Linked DNA regions of Homo sapiens. The protein of the gene in region 1 purifies or fractionates together with the protein of each later gene. This does not show direct contact. Each region holds a gene or a part of one and is shown in the gene's direction. Other genes may lie near its edges. The genes, in order: NT5DC1, SRM and UBA3.

Region 1 (4,402 bases):
AGTTTGACTTTGGTAGCATTCTATTGCAAGGTGCAGAGGAGAATGCCAAGGTCAATGCTCCAGGGCCAACAAGCTTTTTCCAGCCTCTCCAACAATCCAGCCTTTTCTCTTTTGGTTCACAGACATTGAAAACATGATTGTTGGACTCATCAGTGAACAGCTTAATCTTCTTGAAGATTCTTTACTTTTCCTATTCCAGAGAGATTTGTTTGGGGCTTTTAAGTGTTATAATGGAACAAGTTATCAATTTTATTCAAATGGGTCTACTAGGTATAAGTGTCCTCCTACTCAATTGTACTATCTATTGCACTAAATTAATCCTCTGATTGGTCTATTAGCCTCAGAAGGATTAGTATTTGAAAGGGTTAAATGCAGTTCTCAATCAATTATATTTTCATTATGTCACGACTATTGATTTGTCCCATTAGACACATTGTTCCTTTAAATTGAGAACTGAAGCAGTGTAAACATAATAGATTTGTATTTTCTTTTTAAAATGAGGTACTATGTAATAAAGATCTCAAAGTGCTAGTCCTTCACATCCGGAAATCAGGAAGAGAATTAAATGCCCTAAGGCATACATTGTATGTAATGGATTAACTTTCTCTGCATCTAAAATGGTAGTAGTTATACAGTTCTTGAGAGAATTAAGCAAATGTCACTCAAAACATTTTGTGCTCTATAAACCTTAAACCCGGTTTGCAAAAGTTTTTTGTAGTATGCTCTATATATTTCTATGAAGTTTCTGATGCCCTTTCATAAAAAATTCATTACAATAACAAAATAGGATTATCAAGTAATAACCAATATTGGTTTCCATAACAAGTATCATCTTGCAAAATGGTTCTTCACGATGTCTGATACATTTATTTTCTAACGCACTCCAGGGTATGAAATAGTGAAAGGTCTGTCTTCCACTTAACCACTTAGGAAACCAAGGAATATAAAGTTTTTGGTTTAAACCACTATCAAAGATCACGTGGGTGAAAAGACCTTCCAAATTGTAGGCTAACTGGGTCAGAGGGATATTAGCGGATGAATTTTTTCTATGATCTTACTATTCCTCACACAGGGGTAAAAGGTCAGGTCTAACCTCATGATCTCCTGGTTTCCGAGGCGCCCTGAGGCGATGGAGTGTCCCGGTTAATTTTGTGGTAGCCCTCGGGAAAGGCTACGTGCCTACAGGTCTCAGCTGTGCAGCAGCGGCACCGCTCCTGGACCCCTACTGCCTTCTGGGCTCCTAGGCTTGCGGAACAGATCAGGAGTCGCCGGCATTGGGGTACCAGGAGGACGCGAGCTGACTACCTGACTCCGGGCGGCGCAGGACGCCCGCCGCGCGAGGGGCGGGGGCTAAGCGTATCGAGGGGCGGTGCTCGAGGGCGCGGGAGGCGGGAGAGGCTGCCGCGCCGTGTGCCCTGGCAGCCGCAGCCCCGCCCCGCCGCGTCCGGCCCGGTCCTGTCCCGCAGCGTCCCGCCAGCCAGCTCCTTGCACCCTTCGCGGCCGAGGCGCTCCCTGGTGCTCCCCGCGCAGCCATGGCTCAGCACTTCTCCCTGGCCGCCTGCGACGTGGTCGGATTCGACCTGGACCACACTCTGTGTCGCTACAACCTGCCCGAGAGCGCCCCGGTGAGTGGCGCGGGCTCCGGGGCGCACTGCGCGCAACCTCCATGGCGGCTGGGGCTTGAGTTTCCTCCAGGTTTGGGCAACGGCGGACGCTGCCCGGGGCCTGCGGCGGCCGAGTCTTGCCGCAGAGCGCGGCCTCCAGCGGCGAGAAGGGGCGGAAGTGTGCAGCCTCCGCTCCGCGCCGGTGCCGTGGGGACCGGCACATTTACCTCAGCCATTAGCTAATGTTGAGAGGGATAGGGAAGAACGAAGGAGGGGCAAACTGCGCAAGACCGGGCTGGGGAATCGGTGATTTCTAGGGCCGAGGAGGGGCGGGGTCAGGGGGACTAGGGCTGTCCTTGAAGATCTCACGTCGTGGAACTTTCTCTGCATGTCTTTCTGGACACCAGCTGATTGTGGACACAGCCACTTGATTTGGTACTTGCATTTTTTTTGGCTGCATTTTTCTGTTTGCACGATCAACCACCCATCAGTGTTTAAACTGCAATCTGGGAGAGATGCGTAGTATATAGTGTAGTGTATTGAAAGGAACACTAGTTGAAAAGTCATTAAGATCTTAGCCCTAGTTTTACCTTCTATCAAGAGAAGAAAATACATATTTATTGCGCATCGACTACGTGCTCCGTGCACTTTGAATACATTCCAGTCCTACCAACAGTCTGCGAAGTTTGGGTCCTCACTGTGCCCTGAGGGAGGGGGACATGGAGTATGCATGCTTCCAGACCTGTACACTCAAATTAATTGCCCTCCCTCCACTATTCCTTTGGTTTCCCAATTCCCAAGGAAACTAATTTTGAAAAGTTACCAGATTTTTTTAGTCCAAGATCTAAGCATCCAGACAGAAAAAGAGCTGGTTATGAGTACAGTGGTGAAAGCGAGGACTCCTCAGCCAGACTGCCTAGCTTAGGACACCAGCTCCACTGTTACTAGCTCTGTGACTTCGAGGAAGTTACTTAACCTGTGCTGCTTCTCAGTTTCCCCATCTGTAAAATGGAGCTAATAATTGGATTTACCTCACAAGATTGTTGCAAGGATTAAATGAGTAAGAGATGTATAATGCTTAGAATAGTACCTTGGCAAAGACAAGTGTTTGCTTTTATGGTTACCACCCAAACTATTTGGAAACCTCACAGTTTATGGGTAGAACTCTAGATCACTGGTGCAGACATCAGCCAGGGTTGTGCCCCATTATGGGCACCCGCCAGTTCCTGCACCCACCAGTTCAGGTACACGTTAAAGGTCAAAAAAGAGTGGCTGCCCGAATTTCTCGTGTGTTTTCTATGCCCAGATGCTAAATTTTTTTTTAAATGTCCTTTTTCTGCTGTTACACTTTCCTGCTTTCTTACCTTACAGGTCTGGTTTCCTTAGTCACATTGAGAATTAAGAAGGCTTTTTTACTGCTTGATTCTTTGGCCACTGCTTCCCCTAGGTCTTTGATACATGTTTTCCTTCCCTCTGTGTCTTTCGAATCCTTCCTGGTTCACAGTTTTGTGTGTCTCCTCTTTAGTTACCTTCATTTGGAGGTAATATTGTTAAACCACTGTCATGTTAGAGCTAGTGTTGTCCATAGGTGATCATAAAATTTCAGAATATAAGATTCTCAAAGACAAGAGGTTTTTTTACTGCAAACCTGGAGAATAAGTGATGTTTAAAGCTTGAAAACAGTAACCTATTGAGTTTTGGATCATGTTTGGTGTGGAAATCTTTTTTATTTTAAGTCCCACAGTGTGCTGAGCACCATGCTAGAGCTGAGGATACAGAGATCAACACGCAGGCCTCCAGGCAGCCTTACACAGTAGGCAAAAATGCTGAAGAGTTAGTCTTGGTCCCTTGTGGTGGGTAGTATGACCTGGGTCTTGCTTCACGCTGCCAACAGTGCCTGGAGGGCCTCTTTGCTCTGCACAGAAGCTCTTCATCCCATCAGGCCTCATCTTAAACATCGTTCCCCTTAGGAAGTCTTTTTGGCCCTTAAAGTTTGCCCTTCCATTCTAAGCCCACCTTCAGTTTTCCACAAAACCCTTCATTCCTCATAGCACATGCTGCATGATATTAACACTTCCTGTTTACTTGTTGGACTTCCCCTAGAGCCCAGCGTGATGACTCCATCAGTATCTGTGACAGTTTCTTGTGTGTTCTGTGTGCCGAGCTTAGTGCTGGGCACATACTGGACTCAATAAATAGACTGAATAGATAATAGGTATTTTAATAACAGAATATGATACAGCCATGATTCTAATAAGCATGCTGCTTATATGAATGGATTTAATCCTTACAACGTCCCTGTGAGGTAGATATTATCACCACTGTTTAATCACTTAACAGTGATTTAGTCACTGTTAAGAGAGCATCAAGCAACGGGGCACAGAAGGAAAGTGTATCCAGGGCAACTAAGCGAGGTAGTCCGGCTGTGGATTTCTGCTTCTTCCCACCTTGCTGTCTGTATGGTGCCCGAAAACACAGAGGAAAGGCCGGGAGCTGGCAGGTGAGGAGGTGGAGAGGAGTGCTTCACCCAGAGGAGTTAGAGTAAAGGTCAGAACCTCGAGGTGAGCAACAGCACCGGGAACTGCTGGGTGCAAGCAAAAGGTGGCAAGTTGCAGGAGAAGATGGTGGAGAAGTCAGTGGGGGCTGCATCATGGAGAGCTGTGAGTGCGTCTCCTTTCAGTTTTGTAGGCATTTAACAACTGCACAGAGTTGTGCAAACACAGAACTGAGTGTGTCCCCCTCACATGAGGCCTCAGGAAAGGCATTCTAGAAGAGAGGATGACACATGGTTTCTCCTC
Region 2 (3,079 bases), on another chromosome or scaffold:
TTTGGAGGCCGAGGTGGGAGGATCGAGGAGTTCGAGGCAACATAGGGAGACTCTATCTCTACCAAAAATTTAAAAAGTAGCCAAGTATGATTGAACACACTTGTCCCAGCTACTCAGGAGGCTGATGGGGGAGGATCACCTGAGCCCCGGAGGCCGAGGGTGTAGTGAGCCATGATCGATGCCACTGCACTCCAGCCTGGGCCACAAAGTGAGACCCTGTCTCAAAAAAAAATAATAAAAAAAAGGGAAGGGGTTGGCCAAGGCGGCTTGCCTGTGAGGCACTTGGAGAGTCCCACGTGGCTGTGCTGGCTCCAGGTCCCCCAGCCCCTTGGCCCAGACTGGTCCCTCCCATCCCCTCCAGGATGTCATCCAAGTCTCCAAGAAGTTCCTGCCAGGCATGGCCATTGGCTACTCTAGCTCGAAGCTGACCCTACATGTGGGTGACGGTTTTGAGTTCATGAAACAGAATCAGGATGCCTTCGACGTGATCATCACTGACTCCTCAGACCCCATGGGTAAGCAGTGGATGGGCCCCAGGGTTTTCTGGCAGCTGCAGGTCTGGAGGTCAGCCTCCCCCAGGCCTTCAGAGTAAAGGATAGAGCGGCCTCCCACCCCCCGAACTAGAGCTGTACTTTTCCCTTCTCATTTGTTACCTGCCCTCTGAAACATGGCTCAGGACAGTAGGCAGGAGCCAGGCGACTGCCCAGATTCACAAGCTGGTGACCAAGGAGAGTGGGGATCTGGCATTGGGACACTGAGGACCCTGTGTCCTCTTCAGCCTCCCCTCTGCTCTGAAGTGGTCAGCACTGGAGTGGGGGCAGGTTCTAGTCTTGAACGAAGGCCTAGGTTAGAGGTTCCTCTGCTGTGGTGCCAATGAGACTCCCCCAAGAATGGGATTCAGGTGTGGATCCCCCACAGACCTGGGTTCAGATCCTGGCTCTGGCCACCTGGTAGCTGTGTGGGTGACAGTGGCCCTGGAGGTCACAGCCAGACTGTTCAGTGTGTCTCCCTCTGTCTTCCCCAGGCCCCGCCGAAAGTCTCTTCAAGGAGTCCTATTACCAGCTCATGAAGACAGCCCTCAAGGAAGATGGTGTCCTCTGCTGCCAGGGTGAGCCACAGGCCTGGAGCACTGGGGCGGGGCGGGGTGGGGCAGGGCAGGCCCTGCCGGATGCTGATGCTTAGGGGCCCCCAGGCGAGTGCCAGTGGCTGCACCTGGACCTCATCAAGGAGATGCGGCAGTTCTGCCAGTCCCTGTTCCCCGTGGTGGCCTATGCCTACTGCACCATCCCCACCTACCCCAGCGGCCAGATCGGCTTCATGCTGTGCAGCAAGAACCCGGTGAGATGGGGGTGTCTGGGGGTGGGGGTTGGGGGGAAGGTGGGCATAAATAGAGATCCCTGCCCCTGCCGGGCGCGGTGGCTCACACCTGTAATCCCAGCACTTTGGGAGGCTGAGGCGGGCAGATCACAAGGTCAGGAGATCGAGACCATCTTGGCTAACACGGTGAAACCCCGTCTCTACTAAAAATACAAAAAAATTAGCCAGGCATGGCAGCGCGCGCCTGTAGTCCCAGCTGCTGGGGAGGCTGAGGCAGGAGAATGGCGTGAACCCGGGAGGCGGAGCTTGCAGTGAGCCGAGATTGCGCCACTACATTCCAGCCTGGGTAACAGAGGAAGATTCCGACTCAAAAAAAAAAAAAAACCCTCCCCAGGCCAGGTGCGGTGTCTCATGCCTGTAATTCCAGCATTTTGGGAGACCAAGGTGGGCGGATCACTTGAGGTCAGGAGTACAAGACCAGCCTGACCAACATGGAGAAACCCCATCACTACTCAAAATACAAAAAAAAAAAAAATTAGCCGGGCGTGGTGGCGCGTACCTGAGGCTGAGGCAGGAGAATCACTTGAACCTGGGAGACAGAGGTTGCAGTGAGCTGAGATGACGCCACTGCACTCCAGCGTGGCAACAGTGAGACTCCGTCTCAAAAAAAAAAAAAAAAAAGTGCCCCCCCTGATGTGCCCCTGGCCCGGTCCCCAGAGCACGAACTTCCAGGAGCCGGTGCAGCCGCTGACACAGCAGCAGGTGGCGCAGATGCAGCTGAAGTACTACAACTCCGACGTGCACCGCGCCGCCTTTGTGCTGCCCGAGTTTGCCCGCAAGGTGGGTGGCCTGCGGGGCTGGGTGGTGGGACCCAGGGACCCAGAGCGCCCTCCTGACTGGCCTCATGTCCCTCCAGGCCCTGAATGATGTGAGCTGAGCCCAGGCGCCACCACTGATGCCACCCAGGACCTCGGACCTTGGAGCCTGCGGGGTGCCTCGGCCCCTCCAGCCCCGGGCCGGACCTCCTGCTGGCTCTCGCCCACCAACCAAGTGTTACAAGCCCCAGAATGCTGCCCGGCCTGCCCTGCTGGGCGGACTGTCTGTGTGTCTGTCTCTCTGGCGTTCCACCTCCAAGCCTATACCAGCTGTGTACAGCGCCATCTCTCTGCCTTCTGTTGCCCCTCACTCACCAAACACGTGTATTTATAGCAAAGATTGGAGTCCTGTGTCTCCTGACCTTGGCTGGGCCCAGGCAGGGCCACATTCACCATTGGGTGCCTCTGGGGTGAGGGTCTGCAGAGGCCTTGCTGGCTGACCCCCAAGTGTCTGCTGCAGGGCTGAGGCTGCAGGCGGGCCATCGTGGATAGCCTGGGGCACAGAGGGTCACCGCAGTCGTCACGTGGGACCCAGAGCTGTCCTGGGAAGCTGACTTAGCTGTCCTTTTACCAAGCCCTTCACAAGGCCACTGGTGACAGCCCCCCAGGGCAGTGGGGTGGGTGAGATCAGGGTGGGGCTGCCCGGGAGCATTCTCAGAAAAATTGGGGACACTCACAGGTGTAAGTCAGGTCCCATCCAGGTACTCCAGGGCAAATACAGGAAGGGGTGGCGGGGCTGGTTACCTTCGGCCTTTTTAAGCACATCAGGAGCTTAACACTGGCCCAGTGACTGTGCCCTGACTCCACCCGGCATTCAGACTTGGGTTCAAATTCCCACCATGCCCCGCCCCCTATGTGGACAAATTGAGAAAGCAAGTGTGGGCACC
Region 3 (3,649 bases), on another chromosome or scaffold:
CAGACTCAGTGGCGTTACCAGAGGGATATATAGATGACTAGAACAGAATAGGGAAGCCAGAAATAGCCCCATATAAGTATGGCCAATTTGTTTTTGATAAAGGTGCAAAACAGTTCCAATGGAAGAAGCATAGTCTTCAACAAATCGTACTGGAGCAATTTCATATCCATAGTTAAAAGATGAATTTTGACCTAAACATACAAAATTAACTCAAAATGGATTATAGGTGTAAATATAAAATATAAAATGAGCCAGGCGTGGTGGCTCATGCCTGTAATCCCAGCACTTTGGGAGGCCGAGGTGGGTGGATCACTTGAGGTCAGGAGTTCGAGACCAGCCTGGCCAACATGGTGAAACCCCGTCTCTACTAAGAATACAAAAATTAGCCGGGCACAGTGGCTCCCAGCTACTCAGGAGGCTGAGGTGGGAGAATCGCTTGACCCTAGGAGGCTGAGGTTGCAGTGAGCTGAAATTGCGCTACTGCACCCCAGCCTGGGCGACAGAGCAAGGCTCCATCTCAAAAAAACAAAAAAAAACACAAAAAACCATAAAACGATAGAACTTTAGGGTTTGGTGGAGAGTGCTTAGGCCACGTCAAAAGCAAGACCTGTAAAAGGTGGGGTATGGTGGTGCAGATCACTGAGGAAGCAGTGAGCTTTTATCATACCACTACAGAGTCCTGGCTGCTTGGGAGGCTAAGGTGGGAGGATTGCTTGAGACTAGGAGTTTGAAGCTATAGTAGGCTGTGGTCATACTGTGAATAGCCACTGCATTCCAGCCTGGGCAATGTAGTGAGACATCATCTCTAAAAAATTAAAATAATTTTTTGTAAAAGCATGAGCCATAAAAGGAAAAAATTGATACACTGAACTTCATCAAAATTAAAAACTTGCTGTGTGAAAGACCCTCTTAAACGGATGAAGAAAAGCCACAGACTGGAGAAAATACTTGTAAAGCATCTGATGGAGGACTCATATCTAGAGTATATAATGAACTCTAAAAACTCAACAGTAAAACAAAAAAAAATTCAATTAGAAAATAGACAAAAGATAGGAAGAGATATTTTACTAAAAAGGATGACGAAAAGCACATGAAAAGATGTTTCACATCAAACTAAGACCACCATGAGCGATACTGTTACACAACTATTAGACTAAAAAAAAAAAGCCAGTCTCAAAAGGTCATATACTGCATGATTCTGTTTATATAATACTCTTGAAATTACAGAATTATAGAGATGGCTGGGTGTGGTGGTTCAGGCCTGTAATTCCAGCACTTTGGGAGGCTGAGGCGGGAAGATCACTTGAGCCTGGTTGTTTGAGAACAGCCTAGGCAACAAATGAGACCCTATTTCTGTAAAAACTAGAAAAATTACCCGGGCATGGTGGCACATGCCTGTAGTCCCAGCTATGTGGGAGGCTGAGGCAGGAAGATCAGTTAAGCCCAGGATGTGGAGGCTGCAGAGAGATCTTTATTGTGGTCGAATAGTTATGTGTGTTGCCTGGGGTGGTGGTTACACAAATCTATGTGTGTTTAAATGACAGAATTATAAACACACATTGTACCAATGTTCTGTTCATGGTTTTGGTACTGTACTATAGTAAGATGTAACTGGGAAAGGTGCATGGTACCTACCTATACTATCTGTGCAACTTACTGCGAATCTATATTATTTCAAAATAAAGAGCTTAAAAATGCAAATACAGGCCCCTGTAGGGAAAAAGGAAGAGTTGGTGGGGGTGGGTTGGTTAGTGGGGGGCACTCAGTTTGTCTATCCCCATTATGTGGGTCTGGGAAACTTTGGGTATTTTCTAGAAATCCAGATTAGATTTCTTAGTCTGGCTCTTGGTTCCCTGATTGCCATTCCTCCACTGTTTGCTTTGTTTCTTTTTTGACCTCTTTCTAGCTGTAGCTTCGTTCTCCTGCTTGCCTAGCATTCAAAGGGAATAGAGGTCTGAATGACTGAGGGCTAGAATTGAAATTATTGTTCATAGCTTTATTTGTAGGCAAGAATTAAAAATCTAGAGGAAGCATGTATTGTCCCTTTTTTCTATGTATTGTCCCTTTTTTCTCTGTATTGCTTTTAAAAAATTTATAGTGGACTATTTATCTTAACTTTAGAGAAGTTGCATAATTTATAAATTATTAAACAATTGCTCCATTCATTAGAAAAATTAAAACAAGTTTTTGCACACATGTGCTATTAAAACATTAAGTGCTATATTGACTCACCCACAATCAGTTTTGAATGGAGTTTCCTTTTTAGCCTCCAGGGATGGGAAGACTGGTAATAGGATTTGGTAGGGTAACTTGAAAACTGAGTTAAATGAGAAAGGTAGAAAAAATTCGTACTTTTTCTCCTCCCCACAAAAAATAAAAACAGTAAAATCTTTACCAACTGAAAAAGCTGTTGAAATTTTCTGTATGTTAAAAAAATGAGCTTTGCAGTAACTCTTAAAATCACCTAGCAAAATAGGAACTATAATGTGCATCTTTCCTTCACTAAAACATTTATTGCATCTCTTCTTGATGCTGATGATTGAGGACACACATTCTGCTTTCCTGGGGCTTATGGTTTTATATAAAAACCAAAGCAAAGTAGAAAGTATACCTCCTACCAAGGGCATAAATATAATGATATAGGGGTTCAGGAATGAGAAAAAGTAAGTAGTTAGGGGAGGAATGGCAGAAAAGTTTTGTCAGAAAGGAGAGTTGTGTTCATTTAGTCAGATTCCTTGAATTCCACTGATGTGAACATTGATTACTTATTTCTTGTTGTAAATATATGCAGAGTGTGTTCCTTATGGCATTGTCAAATTCATTTTAGAAATTAAAACTTAGCTGCTTAAGTTCCTTTACTTGTATTCAGACATTTCAACAAGATTCAAGATTTTAACGACACTTTCTATCGACGTAAGTTTTTTACTTGAAATTAATGCTCACTAGATTCTTAGAATTTTTTAGTTGGTAGCTATTCAAATATTGCTAGCTATTTCAAGGCTATTTCTTCACTTGCTTTCCTCTCTCACTGTTGGCTTTTCAGTAATGTTGCTGATAGACTGAAAAGAGAATGCTAGTTTTAGCTGACATGACCAGCTACAAGTTTCTATGCTTACCTGAATGAGAGTTCACTCAAGGAATTGGAGCTCTGAGAACGTATGTGGGATTACAGTAAAAAGTGCTTGTGGTTTTTTTGTTGGTTTCTTAGAACGTGCAAATTGTTTTCTGCAAGTGCTTTTTTTTTTTAATTAGTAAACTTTATTTTTTAGGGCAGTTTTATGTTCACAACAAAATTGAACAGAAAATTTTTGAAAACTTGGGTTCTCATAGAGCTTCCTGTTCCCACAAACACACTACCTTCCTAATCAACATCTTGCACCAGAGTGGTACATTTGTTGCAGTTGATGAATCTACATTGAAAGATCATCATGCAACTACATATTTAAAAACTAAAGTTGCTTTTTTTTTTTTTTGTAGAATTTCATATTATTGTATGTGGACTGGACTCTATCATCGCCAGAAGATGGATAAATGGCATGCTGGTAAAGACTTTAGTATTGTTATAGTTCTCTGAAGTTCTTGCTGCTGTGCTTCACATCCCCAAAATTAGAATTGATATATTTTTGAAAAATCAGAGTTTAATTTTTAA

The links.
Region 2: the proteins of NT5DC1 (region 1) and SRM fractionate together in Homo sapiens (co-fractionation; one large-scale study listed by BioGRID). This does not show direct contact.
Region 3: the proteins of NT5DC1 (region 1) and UBA3 fractionate together in Homo sapiens (co-fractionation; one large-scale study listed by BioGRID). This does not show direct contact.

The regions. Positions count from the first base shown.
Region 1 is NC_000006.12:116,099,399-116,103,800, forward strand, and holds the start of NT5DC1 (5'-nucleotidase domain-containing protein 1), read left to right. Parts: upstream 1-1,454; 5' UTR 1,455-1,532; coding exon 1,533-1,625; intron 1,626-4,402.
Region 2 is NC_000001.11:11,054,040-11,057,118, reverse strand, and holds the end of SRM (spermidine synthase), read left to right. Parts: intron 1-361; coding exon 362-515; intron 516-1,024; coding exon 1,025-1,108; intron 1,109-1,192; coding exon 1,193-1,338; intron 1,339-2,034; coding exon 2,035-2,157; intron 2,158-2,233; coding exon 2,234-2,254; 3' UTR 2,255-2,530; downstream 2,531-3,079. UniProt on the Homo sapiens protein: Catalyzes the production of spermidine from putrescine and decarboxylated S-adenosylmethionine (dcSAM). Has a strong preference for putrescine as substrate, and has very low activity towards 1,3-diaminopropane. Has extremely low activity towards spermidine.
Region 3 is NC_000003.12:69,063,332-69,066,980, reverse strand, and holds part of UBA3 (NEDD8-activating enzyme E1 catalytic subunit), read left to right. Parts: intron 1-2,869; coding exon 2,870-2,913; intron 2,914-3,477; coding exon 3,478-3,542; intron 3,543-3,649. UniProt on the Homo sapiens protein: Catalytic subunit of the dimeric UBA3-NAE1 E1 enzyme. E1 activates NEDD8 by first adenylating its C-terminal glycine residue with ATP, thereafter linking this residue to the side chain of the catalytic cysteine, yielding a NEDD8-UBA3 thioester and free AMP.